Linked DNA regions of Homo sapiens: region 1 is linked to region 2. Evidence: fine-mapped expression QTL. Tissue or cell type: whole blood. Region 2 holds a variant in brackets; the other region holds the start of a gene. All regions are shown on one strand. Distances are from middle to middle.

Region 1 (5,423 bases), 460 kb before region 2:
AGGGAGGAGTTGCTGGGGCACAGGACTCCTCAGAAGGGCCACGCTCAACTTCTCTGAGTCCTATGCAGCCACACCAACCTCCTCTAGGTCCCTTCCTGGCCAGAGACCTAGTTGACTCTAACAGTGGTGTCCCCTCTTCCAGTACAGAGCTCCCTGAAGTACTAGGGTGAAGGTAGAGAGGGGCCTAGGGCGTGAAATATAAGAGGACCTAATTCCCAGGCTCGCGCAAGTGCAAGCTTGGTATCTGCATGAACTTGAGAGTTGGCGCCTTCTTCAATTTTGCGCCAGGGATGCCTTGGCTACCTCATCCTATCCCAGCCCTATTGATACTCCCATCAGCTCCTCAACCCTCAGTTCCCTGCCTTTGTCCCTGACGCCTCTCACCTTCCTTTGGGACTCCCTGGGATCACGCTGCCCTGAACTGCAGAACCTGGGCTGCCTCTGGACTCAGGTGAGCATCCGCCTCTGGCCTTCACTTCCCTCCTTCCCTTTGACGTCTTCCTCTCTCCCCTGCTTTGCCCATAGCCCCAGGTCTAGGCCATGTGGGGCCTGTGACATCCCTTTGTCAGGCGCGGTGGCTCATGCCTGTAATCCCAGTACTTTGGGAGTCCGAGGCAGGTGGATCACCTGAGGTCAGCAGTTCAAGACATCCCTGCTGTGCTCTACCTTTGGGGCCTCATCCCCTCCCCCATTCCCCTGCCCACACCAGGCTTCCCTGGAGCCACCGTCTGTAAATCCTAGCTAGGCCCTTGTACTTCAAACACACTCTAGCAGGATGAGTCTCAACTATGCAGAGTCCTCATATTTGTTCTAACTTGTGAAAGGCCTGATTCTAGTGGCCACTCACAGTGACTTCATTCCGGCAGATTTCAGGGGGAATATAAGTGTGTGTGCTTGTATAGGTGTGAGTGTGTGAGATAGTGTAGCGGTGTGTTAGCACATGTGTGAGTGTGTTGCCATTAAGAGCCTGTGGATTTCTGATGCATGAGTCATTAGCTGGGAGTGAGCCTTGGGAAGATACTGCCCATAAATAAGACAGCCATCCCTGACCTGCTGTGGCCATCTGCAGCTGCCTGCACACGTGATCCTGGGCATCTGGGAGGCTGGAGGCCGGGTTCGGGGCTGCCTTTCCCTCCAGATTCCAGAGAGACAGTGGCTGTCACAGATATTTCTAGCTTGCCTGGAGTCCCAGACATTTAAGGGTAGAATGCCTGGAATGGGGATGGAGAGAGGAGAGTAGGAGAGGAAAATAAAGGGTGGTTCAGGAGGCTCTGCCCCCAGGGATCTCAGTGGAGCCTCCTGGCCCACAGTGGGAAGCATGCATTCCACAATTATTTTCTGAGAATCTGTCACATGCCAGGCATTCCCCCAGTGGGTAAGGACACCCTGGTGAACACGACTGACCTGTGCTCTCCCCTCACAGAGCTTATGTTCTAGCAGGGAGGCAGAAGATAAACGAGGAAAGGCTACTTGTAAACAAGTTCCATATAAAAGCTATGATGAAAATAAAATGGAATATTGTGGAAAGTGACTGACAGTGGAGGGGGTCCTTTAGTTGGGGCAGTCAGGGAATGTCAGGACACGAATTGTGCCTAGATAATGAGGAGCTGCCAAATGGAGACTTGGGGGAAGAACCTTTATTACAGAAAAGGATACATGAGATGTCCCCCTGCCCACCCATGTCTTCACTGGACTCTGGATCTGAGTTGCTGAAGCCAGAGCAGGGAGCTAGAGATGACTTAGAGGAGCAGGAAGTCTGATTCCCTGGGGGGAACCTTGGAACATCTTCCATCCCTGATAGACCAGGAGAGATGCCCCGGGTCCAGGAAGGAGAAGAATGACTTCTGTTTCCCTTCCTGAAGGCTTCTTGGTGCAGTGTTGAGCTACAGGAAGGCACTAGCCACATGAGCAGGGCCCTTGCTGAAACCCCCTTCCTCCAGGAAGCCTTCTTTGACTGCCATAGGCTGCAGAGGCTCCTCTCCCCCACCTTGTTATAGCTAACAGAACCACTCAGTTCAGAGCTGGTGGTCTTCTGATGATCTGTCCCGGAGATCTGTTCCCTCAGCTTGGCCAGAGCTCCAGGCTTGTGAGTCTGGTCCGCGGGCATTCAAAGGCCCTCAGTGGCATCTGTGCATCAGTGAGACTGCCCGGGGTTCCTGCTCTGAACCCTTGCCCTAGTGCCCCTAGCCTGGCTGAGAACGGAGGGTCAAGTGCCGGGGTTCTAATCTCAATTACTTTATCCAAGCATCCGCTCGCTCATTTACATGTTTCCCTGGGCTCTCCACTCTGCGCCAGGCCCGGTACCTGGAGCTAGGGAAACCGAACATTAGTGCTGGCTCGCCCGCCCCCGCATCCGGGGAGCTCGGCGTTCTCGCGGCCCTGCTCCCCTTGTTTTCAAGTGCAAGTTCCATGTTTCCGTGCTGGGAATAAGGCCAGCCCCGGGTGCCACCATACTCGCCTGATGTCTTACCCCGACCCGCGCCGCCGAGAGCTTGCGGCTACGGGAACGCGGCGCGCCCCGGGGCCACATCTGGCCTAGCGGGCGCGCGCGTGTCACTAAGACGCTCATTCACCGGCGCAGCTGTCACCATAACAACCGGAGCGAGGGAATCCTGGAGACTGCCGGGGCGGGGGGCGGGGGCGGCGGTCGCAGGAGGGACCCGGCGCGGGCGGGACCGCGGCGGTCGGGGGACACCAGCTGCGTCGGAGCGCCCAGAACGCCCCGCGCTCCGCCGAGCCCCGCTCCACGCAGACCCGCGGGCGGGAGGGAGCCACGCACATCGCCGCCGCGGCCGTCTCCGCGGGGCGGTAACCGAGCCTGCCTCGGAGCCGCCGAACGCCCACGCCAGCGACCCTGACTCTATGGCCCCGGGGGAGCGCGCCGGAGCCGCCGCGCCGCCCACCCCCAGCCGGAACCCTAGCGTCCCGGGGAGCAAGCGGGGAGCCCCGGGCGTCCCCGGCCCCGGCCCAGGGCCCTGCTTGTGGCCCCCGCTCCCGCCACGGGGCATGGGAGGCAGGTAGCCCAGCCTGCGCCAGGACACCCGTGGCGGGCGGAACCCGCCAAGGACCGCGAAGTCCAGAGAAAGGAAGCTGAGGAGCTGCCCGCCCGCCCCCGGCTGCAGCCCCAGCAGGGCCCTCCCCCGGTGGCGCGCACCCGCGCGCGCACACTCGCACACCGCACCTCAGCGCCTGCCCGGCCTCGCCCCCACCCGCGAGCGCCGAACCTCCTGGGGCCGGATGCCATGGGTAACAACTTCTCCAGTATCCCCTCGCTGCCCCGAGGAAACCCGAGCCGCGCGCCGCGGGGCCACCCCCAGAACCTCAAAGGTAGGCTCCCCGGCCGAGCGCTGCTGGAGGACTGGGGCGCAGGTGGAGGGCCAGGGAGGTGTGGTTGGGGAGGGCGGGCAGACGCCACCTGTTGTGCGTGTCTGGAGGCCGGAGATGCACCTCTGGCCGTGGAGTGGGCTGGGGGTGGAGGGCAGCCGGCGATGATGGTGATGGAGGATGGCGTCCCGCGGGGTCTGCGCAGTTCTGTCTGCTGGCACTGGGAACGTCACTGGAGTCCCCTCAGGCCATGGTCTTAGGCGAGCCTGAAGAGATGGGAAAGGATGTTTGCCAGGTCGATAGGGGAGTGGGGAGTGAGGAGGGAAGCTTGGGTCGTCCGTGTCTCCAGGGAGGCACCTCGATGGGTCTCCTTTCCATCGGCCCTAGGGCTGGAGAGACCAGGCTGGGAGCACTAGTTGCATTTCCAATGGGAGGGTTTTAAAAATTCAGGACAGGATTACAGCAGCCTGGAAGAAAGGGTCAGAGCTGCTGGTTCCTGGGGTCCTTTGCAGCCGTTGGGTTTTTGCATCCATTGAATTAGTTTGATTTCTGGTTTTCCCAAAGACCAGATATCCAGTCAGAGCCCTAGAAAAGAGGGTCTGGGAGCCTTGAAACAGAGGGACATTTACTAGGAATGTCTTTGCTCTTCACCTCCCCAGATCCACTCAGCACCCTCAGGGTGGCCCTAGGCCCAGTCTCCCCATTCGGAGCCTGCCATTCCTGTCTTGGATCTTCCAATGCTGTCTCTGACCTTTGGAAGACACTGCTGGGTCCTCCCGGGCCCTCAGACCCTACTAAATTCCTTCCGGAAGGTGCTTTTCTGTCACCTCAGAACCAGTGGCACTTGTCCTGGGCATGATGGCTAAAAGCCAGGAAGGGAAGCCCTTGGGCTTTCAGAAAGAATACCCCACTTCCTAAGCTCCTCAGGTTATGAGAAGGATAACAATAGTGCCCTTTAACACAAGGCATCGAACTTTCTCAAACACATTTTCAGTGAGCATGGACACTGCTTGGGGTAGTCAGCAGAGCAGAGCTAATCACACTATACCCATTTTACAGATGAGGAGAACCAAGGCTTGCTTCAGGTTCCCAAAGCCAGCCAGACCTCGGCGCTAGGTGCTAGGCTGTAGACCCCTATCTTTTGACTTGGAATTCTGTCCCTTCTTTTGCTGAACAGTTAACTTTTAAGACCAGGGAAGAGGAGGAGAGATAGGACCACTGTCCTGCATTCTAATACTCCAGCTCTTTCAGAACTTCAGCTTTCACTTGGCTCAGGAAAATCAGTGGATTTGTTGTGTCTTTCTGGAAATTAATATGGCAATACATGTCAAGATACTTTAAAAATATCAATTTGTTGGCAGGGTGCGGTGGCTCACGCCTGTAATCCGAGCACTTTGGGAGGCTGAGGCAGGTGGATCACTTGAGGTCAGGAGTTCCAGACCAGCCTGGCCAACATGGCGAAACACTGTCTCTACTAAAAATACAAAAATTAGCCGGGCATAGTGGTGCGTGCCTATGATCCCAGCTACTTGGGAGGCAGATAGGCAGGAGAATCCCTTGAATCTGGCAGATGGAAGTTGCAGTGAGCTGAGATCGTTCCACTGCACTCCAGCCTGAGCGACAGAGCGAGACTCTGTCTTGCTAAAAAAAAAAAAAAAATCAGTTTGTTGACCTTGTAATTCTACCTTGAGGAATTGATACTAAGGAAGTGGAGATGCAGGAATATATACTTATGGCACTAGGCTAGGATGTTCATGGCAGTGTTATTTATACTAGGTGGATAACCTAAATGCTCAGTAATCATGGTATATATTCTTGGTAGAGTACTATGCAGTGATTACAATTATATTTGTGAAGAATAGTTGATGACTGTGGAAAATGCTCACAGTATAACGACAGAATACAAAGTTGTGAAGACTGTATGATCCCAATTTTGTTTAAAAAGTGGTGTGAATGCAAAAAACCCCAACAAAAACAAAACAAGCAAAAATGCTTGTAAAGTTTCCAAAGGGTTAACAATTATTTCCTCTGGGTATAGGATCATATGGGATTGCATTTTTTCTTTTTTATATTTTGCTCTTTTCTAAAATTTCTATAAT
Region 2 (6,025 bases):
ATAATACTGTTATTTGGAACTGCAGCATAAAAGACAGATACAAGTGGATCTGTCTGGATCGAAGAGGAGGGGCCTAGAAGGCTTACTGGCCTTACCTCTCTCTCAGTGCTTTTCCCTGCGGCAATCCCTAGGGCATCTCTACAGTTCAAAGGAACACAGTGTCAAACATAATCGTATTGTGCTGGCAACAGAGAATTGCTGAAGTTTGTTTGTTTAAATCAGGAGAGTTCCATAATGTACATAAGATGCCCTGTCAACATAACTCACAATTGTTGAGCACTTACCAGGTAGCAGGCACCATGTTAAGTGACATACTATTTAATATTTACCACAACCCCATCAGGAATGTATTATTAATAATAAAAATAATGATGATAATAACGTTCCCACTTTAGAGGTGAAGAAGCTAAGTTTCAGAGAGGCTAAGTAAATTCTCCAAGCTACACAGTTTGTAGAGCAGGGATCAGAATAGAACTGATCAGATTGCAGAGCCTGTGCTGTATTTTAGGCACAGCTGGTGAGGGTATGAGGCTTCTAAGCTCTCCTGCCTCCTAATCTGCTTACCATATATTAGATGCTTGATTAATGGTATCTATTATCATTACCATTATCTTTATTACCATCAAAAGAGGACAGCTCTATAGGAATTACATTATACATTTGGATATGCAATTTTAGTTGAGGCTGATGAACTAGTGGCCTAAAATCACTAAATTTAAAGATGACTTGTTTCAACATAATAAATAAAGTACGAAATATTTTCATTTACCATTCACTCATTCTATTGGGATAGTGTACAGAGTCATGAAAATATTGCCTCAATGGATTTTCAGCTACTCAGAATAGCTCTCCATAAAGAAAAAACAAAACAAAACACAAATGGCCAATAAAAAATACTAAAGGATGTTCAGACTTACTCATAATTAAAGACATATCATTCAAAACAGTGAGGCTCCAGTGCTGCCATGTGTAGTTGTTCGGTTTGAGCACTGTGTAAGGTGGCTGGCCAAAGGGCAAGTGGAGTGAAAATGGAATTCTGAATGGCAGACTCCATGTTCTGTCATGGTCTCAGTCCGCCTAGGAGGTTATAGGAAGCAAAGAGAGGAGGGAGATTTTTAAATTCCTTTGCCCAAAGGGATTTGAAAAATATTAATGCAAAGGCATGTGTCTTAGTCAGCTTATGTTGCTATAAAAGAATGCCTGAAGCTGGGTAATTTATAAAGAAAAGAGATTTATTTGTCTTATGGTTCTGCAGGCTGTACAAGAAGCACGGTGCCAGCATCTGCTTCTAATGAGTGCCTCAGGCTTCTTCCACTCACAGTGGAAGGGGCAGGGGAAAGGGAGCTGGTGTGTGCAGGGGTCACATTGCAAGAGAGCAGAAGCAAGAGAGAGAGGAGGAGGTGCCAGGCTCATCTCAACAAGCAGTTCTTTCGGGAGCTAAGTATGGGAATTCACTCATTACCATGAGGCCAATCATGAGCATCCACCCTCATGACCCGAACAACTCCAACATTGGTGATCACATTTCACATGCGATTTGGAGGGACAAATATCCAAACTATATCAGCACCCCACATATAATCTTTTCACCTCTTATTATGGACAAAGGTTTAAAAATTTTGTTATGTCCACATCTAGTGAGGGTGCAAGGAAAGGGGCATTCTCTTACATTGACTATGGAAATTTTTGGAATTTAAATTGGTGCTGTTTTTTTGGAAAGCAATTTTACAATTTAAAAAGAGTTTAAGTTCTCACAACATTTGATCAGGAATTCTACGTCTATGAATTTATCCTATATATATACTATACAAAAGGGCAAAGAGGATATTTGAGGATGTTCCTTGTAATCTTATTTGTAAAAGTGAAAAACAAAACACTATCCACATATTCATGTAGGAAAGTCTGGTTAAAAATTTATGGTACATCTATGTAGTGGAATAATATGAAACTACTATGAAAGTATGTGTATGCACTGATATGAAAAGACATGCAGAATATGTTAAATGAAATCAATCAAGTTGCAGAGCAGTTTGCATGTGATACTCTTACTTCTGCAGAAAAGTGACATAAATGTGTGTATATGGTTGTAGACTTATTTTCTGGAAGGATATACAAACAATAGTTAACAGTGATTCCTTCCAGGATGTGGTACTAGAGGAATAGAGGTACAGGATCTTAATCTTTTTTTTTTTTTTGAGATGGAGTCTCACTCTTGTCACCCAGGCTGGAGTGCAGTGGTGCAATCTTGGCTCACCGAAACCTCCACCTCCTGGATTCAAGTGATTCTCCTGCCTCAGCCTCCCAAGTAGCTGGAACTACAGGTGTGCACCACCATGCCTGGCTAATTTTTGTATTTTTAGTAGAGACAGCGTTTTGCCATATTAGCCAGGCTGGTCTCAAACTCCTGACTTCAGGTGATCTGCCCACCTTGGCCTCCCAAATTGCTGGGATTAAGGGTGTGAGCCACCATGCCCAGCCTTGGGATCCTAATCTTTAACTTTATATCTTATTTGTTCAACTATTTTTTAAGAATAAGATGAGAACAAATTAATGGGTTTTGGGGGAAAACAGGTGTGAGACAAGAGTGTGCTGAAATGCAAATACTCTTGGATTTGATACTTAGAGAGGGGAAGGAAGCAGGATTGGGCAGGAAGAAGTTGGATCATGAAACAGTCTCAGTGAAGGCCTCAGTTAACCCCACTGAGATATCTGAAGCTGGAACAGCCCTTCAGGGTCGTCCTGAGTTGAGACAGGGGGGCTAGACCTTGACAGACCCTGGCATCAAGCAGTCAGTGGATGAGGGCTGTCTCAGGAAAAGGATGTGGCCTAGGGAGAGGAGAGCCTCAGCTGGGACAGTTCTGAAGACTCCTGAAGGGGGCACATTGTAGCACCACTTCTCTAACAAAATTGTTTTCCAAAGGTTCAATGACAATTTAAATTTGTCAAAACCCCTCTCAGACCTTTCCAAGGCAGCTGCTGCAGCTGAGAACGGCACTGGATTTTGGCTCTTTCTCCTTGGCTCTGGCTTCCCATATTAAAATATTGACATGTCATTTGATTGCTGGTCTCTTTGAGTTCCTACCCCCAATGCTCAGCAAACTGTAAAAAGATGAAACGTCTTCCATATCAGAAACATCACTGTTCTTTTTCTTTTTTAAGATGGTGCCTCCACTCATTATTTAAAACTCTAATAAAGGGGGTTTAAATCTGCTGGTTAATTTGCTACACGGTCTTGGGAATTAAGGGGATACTGAATTTTTCCTTCTGTGTAGCCCATGAATAAGTAATACTTTGACTACACAGAAACCCTTGTTCCTTAATAAAATGATGTTTTATTGAAGCTGGAGAAGCACATCACCTTACAATGCTTTTATATCAAATACTTGAACTAGTTTGTTTTGCCCGCTCTAAGAAGGAGTGAATAATTTGAAAACAACTCAGTTGGCCTGGTTTATAGGCGTATAACACATTGTAAATAAGCTTATCTGGAGAATCTGGATACTATCAAACCATAATGGAACATAGGCTTCCTCGGGAAAC[T/C]AAATCGTGTGGTTTGAGGGGAGGACAAAGGAAAGCTCTCTGGAACAAAGGAAAGCTCTCTGGAAGGGAACAAGTGCTTCTGAGTTTGTTAGTTTAGCAGGATTGGTTCTGGTGTGGGATGGCAGTAATATTTGGCTTCAAAGCAGTCTTTATCCCTTAATAATTCCCTAATCCTTGCTGTTATGTGAACCAGCAAACATTTGAAAGGCAAAGCTGTAGAATAGAATTAGGATGGTCTCCTGAGTGAGGCAGAAAGATTCAGTGAGAGGAAAGGACTTTCAGGGTTCCAACAGAAGCCTACATTTTGTGAAAGTCAGTAAATATCAATTATAAGCAAGATGCTCTACAAATCTCAGTATGATTATTGGTGCTAATCAGGTATAAAAACCACCGCAGTGGCTCCCTATTATGGAAAGAATCACAGAAAGGGAAAGGCCTCCCCTAGTGCTTGCTCAAAATCGTACATGGAAGAGGCTTAGGGGGGTCTAAACTATTCGTTTGGAACTGGCAGACTTACCTCTAAGCTGTGTTTACATATCACTTTACATAATGTTGAGAAAAACTACGTCTATAATATTAATACTTGTCCATGTCAAAGAATGAAGGAGGTGGTTGTCAATGGTAATGATGGGGGCGCCAAAGTCCATTCACATCATCCCTACATGCTACCATTTTTCTTTCCTATGAAAATGAAATTGTAATGAACAATGTGACCAATGAAAGGTGATTTCTTAACATTTTGCTTGGGGTCTTTGAGTGTAAAGCTATGTTAACTGCAGAACAGTAACGTAAATTTGGGTTTATTAATATCATTAAGGTAAACCTATGAATTTGCCTTTGAACAAAATACAAGGTCATAAAATTGATTATAATGAAACAAAACTATAGTGACAGAAAGCAGATCAATAGTTGCCTGAAGACGGAGGAGGGAGGCGGGAGAGATTATACAGGAACATACAAATTTATAATTCACAATTATAAAGTTATAATTCAGCTTTATAATAAAGTTTTGACATATATATTCACTTGTAATCTCTCTTCCCTCCTCTCTCTACAGGCAACTATTGATCTTCTTTCTGTCACTATAGTTTCGTTTTCATTTGTTTCCGTTTACTGTATAAATGGAATGTACTCTTTTTTTGGGGGAGCCTGACTTCTTTAACTCAGCATGATTATTTTGAGATTGATCCACATTGTTGGGTATATCTATGGCTCATTCCTTCTTATGGCTAAGTAGTATACCCTTGTATGGATATGCTGCAATTTGTTTACCTATACACCTGTTGATAGATATTTGAGTTGTTTCCAACCTGGGCTATTATACACAAAGCTGCTATAAACATGCATGGGCAAGTATTTGGACCTATACCTTCTTTTCTGTAAATACTTAGGAGTGAAATGGCTGGATCATATGGTAAATATATGTTTGACAGTTTGAGAAACCATCAAACTGATTTTCAAATTAGTTGCACATTTTACATTCCCACCAGCAATATATGAGTTTTTCCAGTTGCTCAGCATCCTTGCCAACACCTGATGGGGAGAGTCTTTTTAATTTTGGCCATTCTGGTGGTTGGGGACTGGTATCTCATCGTGGTTTTCATTTACATTTCCCTTATGATTAATGATGTTGAACATATTTTCATATGCTTGTATGCCCTCCATATATCTTTTTTATTGTTGAAATGTGTGTCTAAATATCTTGCCAATTTTTAAATTGGGTTAGTTGGCTTGGAAAAAACACTCCAGGCAGTTAGGACACCTGAGTTCTATTTCTAGATCTGGTCCCAGTGTTGCCATACTATTTGACCACAGATTTCTTGCCTCTCTCGACCCTTTGCAAATGAGGTTAAGCCCACTGCTCTGTAAGTCTTCTTTAAGAGTCAAGTTATTTGTTGGGTATATGTTTTGGAAATATTTTCCCTGAGTTTGTGGCTTGCCTTTCTTAGTAGCATTTTTTAAAGAGAAAAAGTTTTAAATTTTGATTAAACCCAATTCATTAATTTCTTTCTCTTATAGTTTATGCTTCTTGTGTCATATTTAAGAAATCTTTTCCAAAGCCAAGATCACTAAGATTTTTAAAAGATGTTTTATAATTTTATAATTTTTAATTGTAGCTCTTACATTTAGCTCTATATTCCATTTAGAGTTACTTGTGGTATATGGTATAATGTGGGGGTTGAGGTTACTTTTTATTTTTTCATGTGGCTGATGGTTTCAGCGTTATTTGTTGAAGATATTATCCTTTCCTCATTGAATTGCCTTGGCACCTTTGCCAAGAATCAATTGACTATATGTGTGCGTGTGTGCATATACATATGTGTATGTATACATATACATGTATATGTGTATATATATGTATGTATGTCTAATGCTGGGTTCTCTCTTATGTTTCATTTTTGCCCATCTTTAGACCAGAACCTCTCCTGATTACTATAGCTTATGATAAGTCTTGAAACCTTGTAGTGTAAATCCTGTATCTTTG

The links. PIP is the estimated chance that this variant, and not a neighbour inherited with it, causes the effect.
Region 1: NEURL1 starts here. The variant in region 2 is fine-mapped to the expression of NEURL1 in whole blood (TOPMed, PIP above 0.99).

What each region holds. Positions count from the first base shown.
Region 1 is chr10:103,491,146-103,496,568 of GRCh38, forward strand. NEURL1 (neuralized E3 ubiquitin protein ligase 1) reads left to right here and starts at 2,560. Exons shown (of 6, transcript NM_004210.5): 1 at 2,560-3,327. The coding sequence starts at 3,243. NEURL1-AS1 (NEURL1 antisense RNA 1) reads right to left here. Exons shown (of 4, transcript NR_120675.1): 3 at 3,416-3,590. RefSeq lists silencers at 2,769-2,918, 2,929-3,058, 3,139-3,238 and an enhancer at 2,905-3,454.
Region 2 is chr10:103,948,552-103,954,576 of GRCh38, forward strand. The region is part of intron 3 of LOC102724351 (a long non-coding RNA gene); the gene reads right to left. Among named protein-coding and RNA genes, the nearest start is that of SLK, 16 kb to the right of the region's middle. The variant T/C (reference allele first, on the strand shown) is at 3,541.